Homo sapiens: one gene and its partners. The protein of the gene in region 3 purifies or fractionates together with the protein of the main gene of each other region. This does not show direct contact. Each region holds a gene or a part of one and is shown on either strand. Other genes may lie near its edges. The genes, in order: NPM1, CENPC and RBM34.

Region 1 (3,652 bases), on a different chromosome or scaffold from region 3:
AAAGAGCGAGACTCCGCCTCCAAAAAAAAAAATCAGCTTGTTGTGTGTTGTAGGTACACACACACACACAAACATACTAAATGTAAGGTGGTGGGGCGGGGGGAGCCAATAGACTTTTTTGAAAGAGATGGACCCTCACTTTGTCACTCAGTCTGGGTTAGAGTTGCGTGATCTCGGCTTACTGCAACCTTCACTTCCCGGGTTCAAGCGATTCTCCTGCCTCAGCTTCCCAAGTAGCTGGGACTACATGCGCGTGCCACCAGGCCCAGCGTATTTTTGTATTTTTGAGTAGAGATGGGGTTTCACTCTATATGTTGGCCAGGCTGGTCTCAAACCCCTGACTGCAGGTGATCCGCCCTCCTGGGCCTCTCAAAGTGTGTGAGCCACCACGCCTGGCCTGAATTTTTTGTGATTGTGAAGTCAATAGTTGTTTCCTGTAAGGAATCTTTGTTGAAAGGTATGTCTGCATAGAGTAGAAGTTCTCAACCTTGGCTGCATGTTAGCTTGAAGTAGAACATTTGGGCCTAGACAGGGTGTATTGATCTCATTCCTGACCCTACCCACTTCCCTGCAGAAAATGGAATTTAAAGGAAAAAAAGTTTAAAGGAACCCCAGTACTTGTGCTCTACTTATGGAGATTGTCATAAAAATGGTCTGGGGTGGGCGCCAGGCATCAGACTACAGTGACTTTCTTGCTTTATTCTTAGGGATTTTCTGATTTCCTTTTTTTTTTTTTTTTAACCTGATGAAATAGTTTATTTACAATTTAAACGAATAAATTTCATATTCTACAACACATATAATCTATTGACTAAATGTAACTAATGATGAACCTCCATACAAACAACCCCACTAAAAAGTGGGCAAAGGACATAAACAGACACTTTTCAAAAGACATACAAGTGGCCAAAAAGCATATGAAAAACAGCTCAATATCACTGATTAGAGAAATGCAAATCGAAACCACAATGAGATACCATCTCACACCAGTCAGAATAGCTATTATTAAAAACTCAAAAAACAACAGCTGCTGGCAAGGTTGCAGAAAAAAGGGAATGCTTACACACTCTTGGTGGGAGTGTAAATTAGTTCAACCATTGTGGAAAGCAGAGTGGCGATTCCTCAAAGAGCTAAAAACAGAACTACCATTTGACCCAGCAATCCCATTACATTCCCAAAGGAATATAAATCATTCTACCATAAAGATACATGCACACAAATATTCACTGCAGCACTATTCACAATAGCAAAGACATGGAATCAACCTAATACCTGATATGGTCTGGCTTTGTGTCCCCACCCACATCTCATCTCAAATTGTAATCCCCACGTGTTGGAAGAGGGGCCTGGTGGGAGGTAATTGGATCATGGGGTAGATTTCCCTCTTGCTGTTCTGTTGATAGTGAATTCTCATGAGATCTGGTTGTTTGAAAGTGTGTAGCACCTCCCCCTTTGTGCTCTCTCTCTTCTGCTGCCATGTAAGATGTGCCTTGCTTCCCCTTTGCCTTCTGCCATGATTGTAAATTTCCTGTGGCCTCCTAGCCATGCTTCCTATACAGCCTACAGCACTGTAAGTCAATTAAACCTCTTTTCTTCATAAATTACCCAATCTCAGGTAGTTCTTTTTTTTTTTTTTCATTTTATTTATTTATTTATTTATTTTTTATTTTTATTTTTTTTTTAATTTATTTTTTTATTGATAATTCTTGGGTGTTTCTCACAGAGGGGGATTTGGCAGGGTCATGGGACAATAGTGGAGGGAAGGTCAGCAGATAAACAAGTGAACAAAGGTCTCTGGTTTTCCTAGGCAGAGGACCCTGCGGCCTTCCGCAGTGTTTGTGTACCTGATTACTTGAGATTAGGGATTGGTGATGACTCTTAACGAGCATGCTGCCTTCAAGCATCTGTTTAACAAAGCACATCTTGCACCGCCCTTAATCCATTTAACCCTGAGTGGACACAGCACATGTTTCAGAGAGCACAGGGTTGGGGGTAAGGTCACAGATCAACAGGATCCCAAGGCAGAGGAATTTTTCTTAGTGCAGAACAAAATGAAAAGTCTCCCATGTCTACTTCTTTCTACACAGACACGGCAACCATCCGATTTCTCAATCTTTTCCCCACCTTTCCTGCCTTTCTATTCCACAAAGCTGCCATCGTCATCCTGGCCCGTTCTCAATGAGCTGTTGGGCACACCTCCCAGACGGGGTGGTGGCCGGGCAGAGGGGCTCCTCACTTCCCAGTAGGGGCGGCTGGGCAGAGGCGCCCCTCACCTCCCGGACGGGGCGGCTGGCCGGGCAGGGGGGCTGACCCCCCCCACCTCCCTCCCGGACGGGGCGGCTGGCCAGGCGGGGGGCTGACCCCCCCACCTCCCTCCCGGACAGGGCGGCCGGCCGGGCGGGGGGCTGACCCCCCCACCTCCCTCCCGGACGGGGCGGCTGGCCGGGCAGAGGGGCTCCTCACTTCCCAGTAGGGGCGGCCGGGCAGAGGCGCCCCTCACCTCCCAGACGGGGCGGCTGGCCGGGCGGAGGGCTGACCCCCCCACCTCCCTCCCGGACGGGGCGGCCGGCCAGGCGGGGGGCTTACCCCCCCACCTCCCTCCCGGACGGGGCGGCTGGCCGGGTGGGGGGGCTGACCCCCCCATCTCCCGGACGGGGTGGCTGGCCGGGCTGAGGGGCTCCTCACTTCCCAGTAGGGGCGGCCGGGCAGAGGCAACCCTCACCTCCCGGACGGGGCGGCTGGCCGGGCGGGGGGCTGACCCCCCCACCTCCCTCCCGGACGGCACGGCTGGCCAGGTGGGGGGCTGACCCCCCCACCTCCCTCCCGGATGGCACGGCTGGCCGGTCGGGGGGGCTGACCCCCCACCTCCCTCCCAGATAGGGCGGCTGGCCGGGCGGGGGGTTGACCCCCCCCCACCTCCCTCCCGGACGGGGTGGCTGCTGGGCGGAGATGCTCCTCACTTCCCAGATGGGGTGGCTGCCGGGCGGAGAGGCTCCTCACTTCTCAGACGGGGCAGCTGCCGGGCGGAGGGGCTCCTCACTTCTCAGACGGGGTGGTTGCCAGGCAGAGGGTCTCCTCACTTCTCAGACGGGGCGGCCAGGCAGAGACGCTCCTCACCTCCCAGACGGGGTCTCGGCCGGGCAGAGGCGCTCCTCACATCCCAGATGGGGCGGCGGGGCAGAGGCGCTCCCCACATCTCAGACGATGGGCGGCCGGGCAGAGACGCTCCTCACTTCCTAGATGTGATGGCGGCTGGGAAGAGGCGCTCCTCACTTCCTAGATGGGATGGCGGCCGGGCGGAGACGCTCCTCACTTTCCAGACTGGGCAGCCAGGCAGAGGGGCTCCTCACATTCCAGACGATGGGCGGCCAGGCAGAGACACTCCTCACTTCCCAGACGGGGTGGCGGCCGGGCAGAGGCTGCAATCTCGGCACTTTGGGAGGCCAAGGCAGGCGGCTGGGAGGTGTAGGTTGTAGTGAGCCGAGATCACGCCACTGCACTCCAGCCTGGGCACCATTGAGCACTGAGTGAACGAGACTCTGTCTGCCCTGATTTCCTTTTTTGAACTGACTTAGTACTGTGCATAAAAGCAAACTCCCAAGTTACTCTTTTTTTTTTTATTTAAAGAGATGGGTGGCCTACTCTTGCCCAG
Region 2 (3,652 bases), on a different chromosome or scaffold from region 3:
TGGGTCCTACCATTAAAGTCAAAAGAAATAAAAGTGATTACAAGAGAATACTAGGAACAACTGTATGCCAACAAATTAAATAACCTAGATGAAATGGACAAACTCCTAGAAAGACACAAATTATCAAAATTGATTCAAGAGGAAACAGTCTCAAAATACCATGAATCAGTAATCAAAAACAAACTACCCATATAGAAAAGCTCAGGCACAGGTGGCTTCACTGCTTTTACCAAACATTCAAAGAGAATTACGACAAATTATTCACAAACCGTTTCAAAAAATAGAGAGATAATACTTCCCAACTCATTGTATAAAGCCAGTATTACCCTGATACCAAAACTAAACAAAGACAACAGAAGCAAAGCAAGCTACCGATCAGAACCCCTCAACAAAATACTAGCAAATTCCAGCAACACAATAAAATAAAAGAGAGAGAAAAGCAGAGAATGGCCTGAAAAAGTGAAACAGAATGGGTATGGGATTTCTTTATGCACTATAATGATATACGCTAATATATTTTAGGACACACTGTCATTTATTTCAGTATATCCTCAGCACCTTACTGATTCCAACACAAAGTATGTATTACCTCAATAGGTTGTTGGAACTAATAAGAATTCATTAAAAGTATCTAGCAAATATTTGGCACATAGTATGAACTCAAAAAATGTTAACTATTATCATCCTAAGAAGAAAAGTATTAAGCTATATTCCTAACTATTGAAATCACATTAATCTCACTTAAAAGGAAACAATTTGAACTATACACTTAAAAAAGATTAAGACAGTAAATTTTATGTTATGTGTTTTTTGTCTGTTTGTTTTTTGAATCTCTACTTTGGGAGCCCAAGGCAGGAGAATCACTTCACACCAGGCGTTCAAGACAAGCCTAGGCAACAAAGCAAGACCTCATTTCTCCAACAAATTAAAAAATTAGCCAGGTGTGGTGGTCCACACCTGTAGTCCTAGCTACTCAGGAAGCTAAGGCAGAAGGATTATCTGACCCAGAAGTTTGAGGTTACAGTGGGCTATGATCACGCCACTGCACTCCAGCCTGGGAAACAGAGGAAGACTCTGTCTCTTAAAAAAAAAAAAAAAAAAAAAAAGTTTAACTCTTGGATGACAATAATATCTTATTAAATTTAACAGTCATAATTCCAGGTGCTATGTACTATTCCCTATTTTAATATGAGGAAACAAGTGCAGAGTACTACTTTGCCTGTGTGTCATCCAGCTAATGGTAGAGGCTGGATTTAATACCAGGTATGTCAGAGTGCAGAGCTCTTCATGCTAATTACTGCCTGTCCATAAATGACTAAATAGCACAAATTATTAAATGCTGAACAACAAAAGTAACTATATTGTACACATAACAGACATTACCTAGAACAATCAAGATTTTTCTTCTTAGCCAAGTCTGCCTCATCACTTTCCAATGGCTCACTCAGCGAACATCTGGAAATTTCATCATGACCAACGATACCTCCAGAACCTTCAGCATTTAAAAACTTCTGTACTCTTTGGTTGCCTTTAGTTGCTGTCTTCTGCCTTTTAAGTGGAATAGTTTTTTTCCTAATATTCTTAGATGACTGATTTGTTTTCTTAGTAGATTTTCGGCTACTATTGTGATGCATTGGTAATTCATTTCTTACTGAAGAATTGCTATAAACAGGACCTGAAGGATTCAATGATAACCTAAAGTTAGTAAGTTTGTCCAGATGATTTGGCTCACTGAAATACCAACAGCATTTATATTTGCATATAAACATATACACATACACACACACACACACACACACACACACACACACACACACACACACACATCTCAGGCTAAATTTATTTCCAAATTAAATTCTTTAAACAATGTAGCTCTTCAGTTTATAGATATATGAAACAGGCCCTTCAAATCTGTCACAGGCTTCAAGAAACACTCTCTGGCTCTGCCCACTGCCCTTCTGGCCATCCTTAATATCTGATATTCCCCAAGGTGACAGCTTCAGCTTTTCACTCCATATACTTTCATTGACGGACTTATCTACCCAGAGCTTTAATTACTATCTATATGCTGACACCTATAATATCCATCTACTGCTCTCCCCTATATCTGCCTCTCTTGCTTTATTTCCTATCTTAATGAAAAATACAACTACCTATTCTATCCAGATATCTAAATCAGAAATTTGAGTCATGCAAGACTACTACTCCTATCCACAATCACGCCCTAAATCCCATCAATTCTACTTTATTAATGCCTTTCAAATCTTTCAAGCTCTCCCTCCTGTCATTAGTAGAAGTCCTCATTATTTCATATCTGGATTATTAAAACAGTCTCTTTACTAATCTCCCCCTCCCTAGCCTTGTTTTTCTTCAATCCATTCCCTACACTGCTGCAAGAATCACCTTTGGAAAACAAAAACTGGATCATTACAACTCTGCTTAATTAAAGTATTTTAGTTATTATCTATAGCTTCAGGATGAAGTCCAAATACTTCAACATCAATTCATATCTACATCTAGATTTGCTTATTTCATAAACCACAATTCCCAAAACCCCCCTCCAAACAAACAAACCAAAAAAAGCCATCAGTAATGAACAATCTACAGTTTCTCTAAAGCACTGGTTGTCCAAAGGCAGTCTCTAGACCAGCAAGATCAGCATTATCTGGGAATTTGAAATGTAAATTATCATGCCTCACCTCAGACCCCAGTGAATCAAAGACTTTGCAGAGCAGGGCCCAGTAACCTGTGCCTTAATAGGCCCCCCAGACAATTCTAAAGCACACTAAATTAAAGAAAGAAAAGATCAAGCTCTCTGCTCCAGATCTCTGCACAAGCTACTTCTACTTAAAACATTCCATAACTTCCTCCTTACTCCACTCAATCACTTAGCTAACTCCTAGTTCATCCTTCAGGAAGCTTTCCCTAATTTCCAAGTCTTAGGTAGCTTGCTATCACACATACGACTGTTTACTTATCTCTACTTCTCTCCTCCAGCAGACTAACAACTCCTTGACCTCAAGTAATTGATTGGTATTTTATCTATGTATATTCCCAATGCCTAATGACAGGGGCAGGACTATGGTGAAGCAAGAGTAGCCTCAGCTGGAAAATTCAAGAAGGTACTCATTTTCAGGTCTGTGCAAGTACAGAGCCCGAACTGATACAATCCTGTGACTGACTGCCTTAAATTTTTCACCCTAGTGTCTCATTGTCTTACCCTAGTCCTGGTCCTACTTTACCTCATTCCTGCCCCATGGCAAGTACTCCATATACATTTCTTCATATATATGGAAGGGCAACAGTGTCACACGTACGACAGGCAGGCTGGGGGCAGGTCAAGTTGTTCTTCTTAACTTCAGACTTCAGTTTCTTCTTCCATCAGATGAGAGTTTAGACTATATGATATATAAAGATTCCTCCACTTTTTCGACTCCCAGCTTGATCAAAAATCCAACATCTATTTCAGGACTCTTAAATAAGTGTTTTTTGATAGTTTCAGAGATCTAGCACATTTATCCAAGTTCTGTAAGAATTTATTTACCCATCTGTTTATGTATTCATCTGCCACATAGTACTTAGCATTTCAGGCAACCTGGGGCAGAAAAGTGAGTTCCCCAAAGCAGTAACAGTATTATTTAACACTTCAATA
Region 3 (3,652 bases):
TCATCATACAGGATATACTCTTGTCTAATTTGCTCAGCATAATGATTTTGAGGTTTGTTTTTTTGTGGGGGAGGGTTGGTGGAGGGGAACAGTGTCTTCTGCTGTTGCCCAGGCTGGAGTTCAGTGGCACGATAATGGCTCACGGCAGCCTTATCACCTGGGCTCAAGCAGTCCTTCTGCCTCAGCCTCCTAAATACCTGGGACTACAGGTGCTCGCCACCACACCCGGCTGATTTTTAAGTTTTTAGTAGAGCCAAGGTGTCACTAATGCCCAGACTGGTCCTGAACTCCTGAGCTCAAGTAGCCCTCCTGCCTTTGCCTCCCAAAGTGTTGCAATTACAGGCTTGAGCCACCGTGCCTGTCTGAGATTTGTTCTTATTATTGCAATGCATTGGTAATTAATTCGTTTTTATTGCTCAGTAGTATTCCCTTGTATGACAGTATTTGTTTATCCATTCACCTGTTTATTGTGTTGTGTTGTATTTATTGTGATGTATTGTACTGTATTGTACTGTATTGTATTGTGATGGAGTCTTGCTCTGTCGCTCAGGCTGGAGTGCAGTGGTACCATCTCGGCTAATTGCAACCTCTACCTCCCGGGTTCAAGTGATTTTCATGCCTCAGCCTCCCAAGCAGCTGGGATTACAGACACATACCACCATGCCCAGCTAATTTTTTCATACTTTTAGTAGAGATGGGGCTTTGCCATGTTGGCCAGGCTGGTCTAAAACTCCTGACCTCAGGTGATCCGCCCGCCTCAGACTGCCAAAGTGCTGGGATTATAGGCGTGAGCCATCGCACCCGGCCCCATTCACCAGTTTATGAACATTCAGGTTATTTCAGCCTTTGGCTATTATACATAAAACTGCTAAAAAAAATTTGGGTACGGATCATTTCTTTTGAGAAACTGCCTGGTCGGATTGCCAGATCTTACGGTATATTGTAACTTTCTAAGAAGCTGCAAAATTGTTTTCCAAAGTGTTTGTACCATTTTACATTCCTACCAGCTATCGATGAGAATGTCAGTTGCTTCACATCCTCACCAGCACTTGGCATTGTCATTTAATTTTAGACATTCTGAAGGTTTGTCAACCACAGTGACTAAAAATGTTAGGCATCTTATGTGCTTACTATTTGTATCTATTCTTTGGTGAAATGTTGGTACAAAAATTTTGCCCATTTTTTAGTGACTTTTAAATTATTTTTATATGGTTGTAAGGAGTTATTTATATATTCTAGATATAACACCTTTTCCTGCTATGTGTGTTTCAGATATTTTGCTCCAGTTTGTGGCTGGCTTTTTTAGAGGTGTCTTTTTTTTTTTTTTTTTTTTTGAGATGGATCCTTGCTCTGTCACCAGGCTGGAGTGCAGTGGTGCGATCCCAGCTCACTGCAACCTCCGCCTCCCGGGTTCAACTGATTCTCCTGCCTCAGCCTCTCAGGTAGCTGGGATTACAAGCGTGCGCCACCACACTCGGGTCATTTTTGTATTTTTAGTAGAGACGGGGTTTCACCATGTTGGCCAGGCTGGTTTCGAACTCCTGACCTCAGATGATCCACCCACCTCTGCCTCCCAAAGTGCTAGGGTTACAAGCATGAGCCACCACACACGCCCAGAGGTGTCTCTTAAAGATTGAAAGTTTTAAGTTTTATTGAAGATCTCATTTAGAGAGTGCTGTTGTTGGCCAGGCACAGTGGCTCACGCCTATAATCCATTACTTTGGGAGGTCAAGGTGGGCGGATCACCTGAGGTCAGGATTTTAAGACCAGCCTGGCCAACGTGGTGAAACCCCGTCTCTACTAAAAATACAAAAATTAGCCAGGAGTGGTGGCGTGCGCCTGTAATCCCAGCTATTCTGGAGGCTGAAGCAGGAGAATCACTTGAACATGGGAGTTAGAGGTTGCAGTGAGCCGAGATCATGCCATTGCACTCCAGCCTGGACTGCAAGAGAGAAACTCCGTCTCAAAATAAAAAAAGTGCTATTGCTTGTCAGTTGGCTTGGTAGTCTGGTGGGAGTGGGCGCAGCAGGGTCTCTGCTGTCTTGTCTTAGTGTTTCCGTGTCTCAGGAGTGCACCTGATCAGGGCTTTTTTCCCGGGGCAGCCAAGCTGTGCCAAATGCCTTGTACCTTTAGTGGGGATTATGCAGAGGATGTTTCCCACCTCTCCCCCGGTAGCTGGACTCCTCCCTTCCTCCGGCTGTAGGGGTCTTCTCTGTGCCCTGGAGTGACAGGGTTTGCTATCCCTCCCCTAGCAGCTTAGCCTTCTCCTCCATCAAGAGAATGTGTCCGGAATTGGTGGGTTCTTGGTCTCACTGACTTCAAGAATGAAGCCGCGGACCCTCGCGGTGAGTGTTACAGCTCTTAAGGTGGTGCGTCGGGAGTCTGTTCCTTCTGATGTTCGGATTTGTTCGGAGTTTCTTCCTTCTGGTGGGTTCGTGGTCTCACTGGCTCAGGAGTAAAGCTGCAGACCTTCGCAGTGAGTGTTACAGCTCTTAAGGCAGCGCGTCTGGAGTTGTTCGTTCCTCCCGGTGGCCTCGTGGTCTCGCTGGCTTCAGGAGTGAAGCTGCAGATCTTTGCGGTGAGTGTTACAGCTCATAAAAGCAGCGTGGACCCAAAGAGTGAGCAGTAGCAAGATTTATTGCAAAGAGTGAAAGGACAAAGCTTCCACAGTGTGGAAGGGGACCCGAGTGGCTTGCCACTGCTGGCTAGGGCAGCCTGCTTTTATTCTCTTATCTGGCCCCACCCACATCCTGCTGATTGGTAGAGCCGAGTGGTCTGTTTTGACAGGGTGCTGATTGGTGCATTTACAATCCCTGAGCTAGATACAAAGGTTCTCCATGTCCCCATCAGATTAGTTAGATACAGAGTATCGACACAAAGGTTCTCCAAGGCCCCACCAGAGCAGCTAGATACAGAGTATCGATTGGTGCACTCACAAACCCTGAGCTAAACACAGGGTGCTGATTGGTGTGTTTATAAACCTTGAGCTAGATACAGAGTGCCGATTGGTGTATTTACAACCCCTGAGCTAGACATAAAGGTTGTCCAAGGCCCCACCAGAGCAGCTAGATACAGAGTGTCGATTGGTGCACTCACAAACCTTGAGCTAAACACAGGGTGCCGATTGGTGTGTTTACAAACCTTGAGCTAGATACAGAGTGCCGATTGGTGTATTTACAATCCCTGAGCTAGACATAAAGGTTGTCCAAGGCCCCACCAGAGCAGCTAGATACTGAGTGTCGATTGGTGCACTCACAAACCTTGAGCTAAACACAGGGTGCCGATTGGTGTGTTTACAAACCTTGAGCTAGATACAGAGTGCTGATTGGTGTATTTACAATCCCTGAGCTAGACATAAAAGTTCTCCAAGGTCCCACCAGAGTAGCTAGATATAGAGTGTCGATTGGTGCATTCACAGACCCTGAGCTAGACACAGGGTGCTGATTGGTGTATTTACAATCCCTGAGCTAGACATAAAGGTTGTCCACATCCCCACCAGACTCGGGAGCCCAGCTGGCTTCACCCAGTGGATCCTGCACCGGGGCTGCAGGTGGAGCTGCCTGCCAATCCCATGCCGTGCGCCTGCACTCCCCAGCCCTTTGGTGGTCGATGGGACTGGGCGTCGTGGAGCAGGGGGTGGCGCTCCTCGGGG

What was found.
Region 1: the proteins of RBM34 (region 3) and NPM1 purify together in Homo sapiens (affinity purification with mass spectrometry; 4 studies listed by BioGRID and IntAct, with this or other methods). This does not show direct contact.
Region 2: the proteins of RBM34 (region 3) and CENPC purify together in Homo sapiens (affinity purification with mass spectrometry; 2 studies listed by BioGRID and IntAct, with this or other methods). This does not show direct contact.

The regions. Positions count from the first base shown.
Region 1 is NC_000005.10:171,401,331-171,404,982, forward strand, and holds part of NPM1 (nucleophosmin), read left to right. Parts: intron 1-3,652. UniProt on the Homo sapiens protein: Involved in diverse cellular processes such as ribosome biogenesis, centrosome duplication, protein chaperoning, histone assembly, cell proliferation, and regulation of tumor suppressors p53/TP53 and ARF.
Region 2 is NC_000004.12:67,507,431-67,511,082, forward strand, and holds part of CENPC (centromere protein C), read right to left. Parts: intron 1,676-3,652; coding exon 1,384-1,675; intron 1-1,383. UniProt on the Homo sapiens protein: Component of the CENPA-NAC (nucleosome-associated) complex, a complex that plays a central role in assembly of kinetochore proteins, mitotic progression and chromosome segregation.
Region 3 is NC_000001.11:235,140,609-235,144,260, reverse strand, and holds part of RBM34 (RNA-binding protein 34), read left to right. Parts: intron 1-3,652.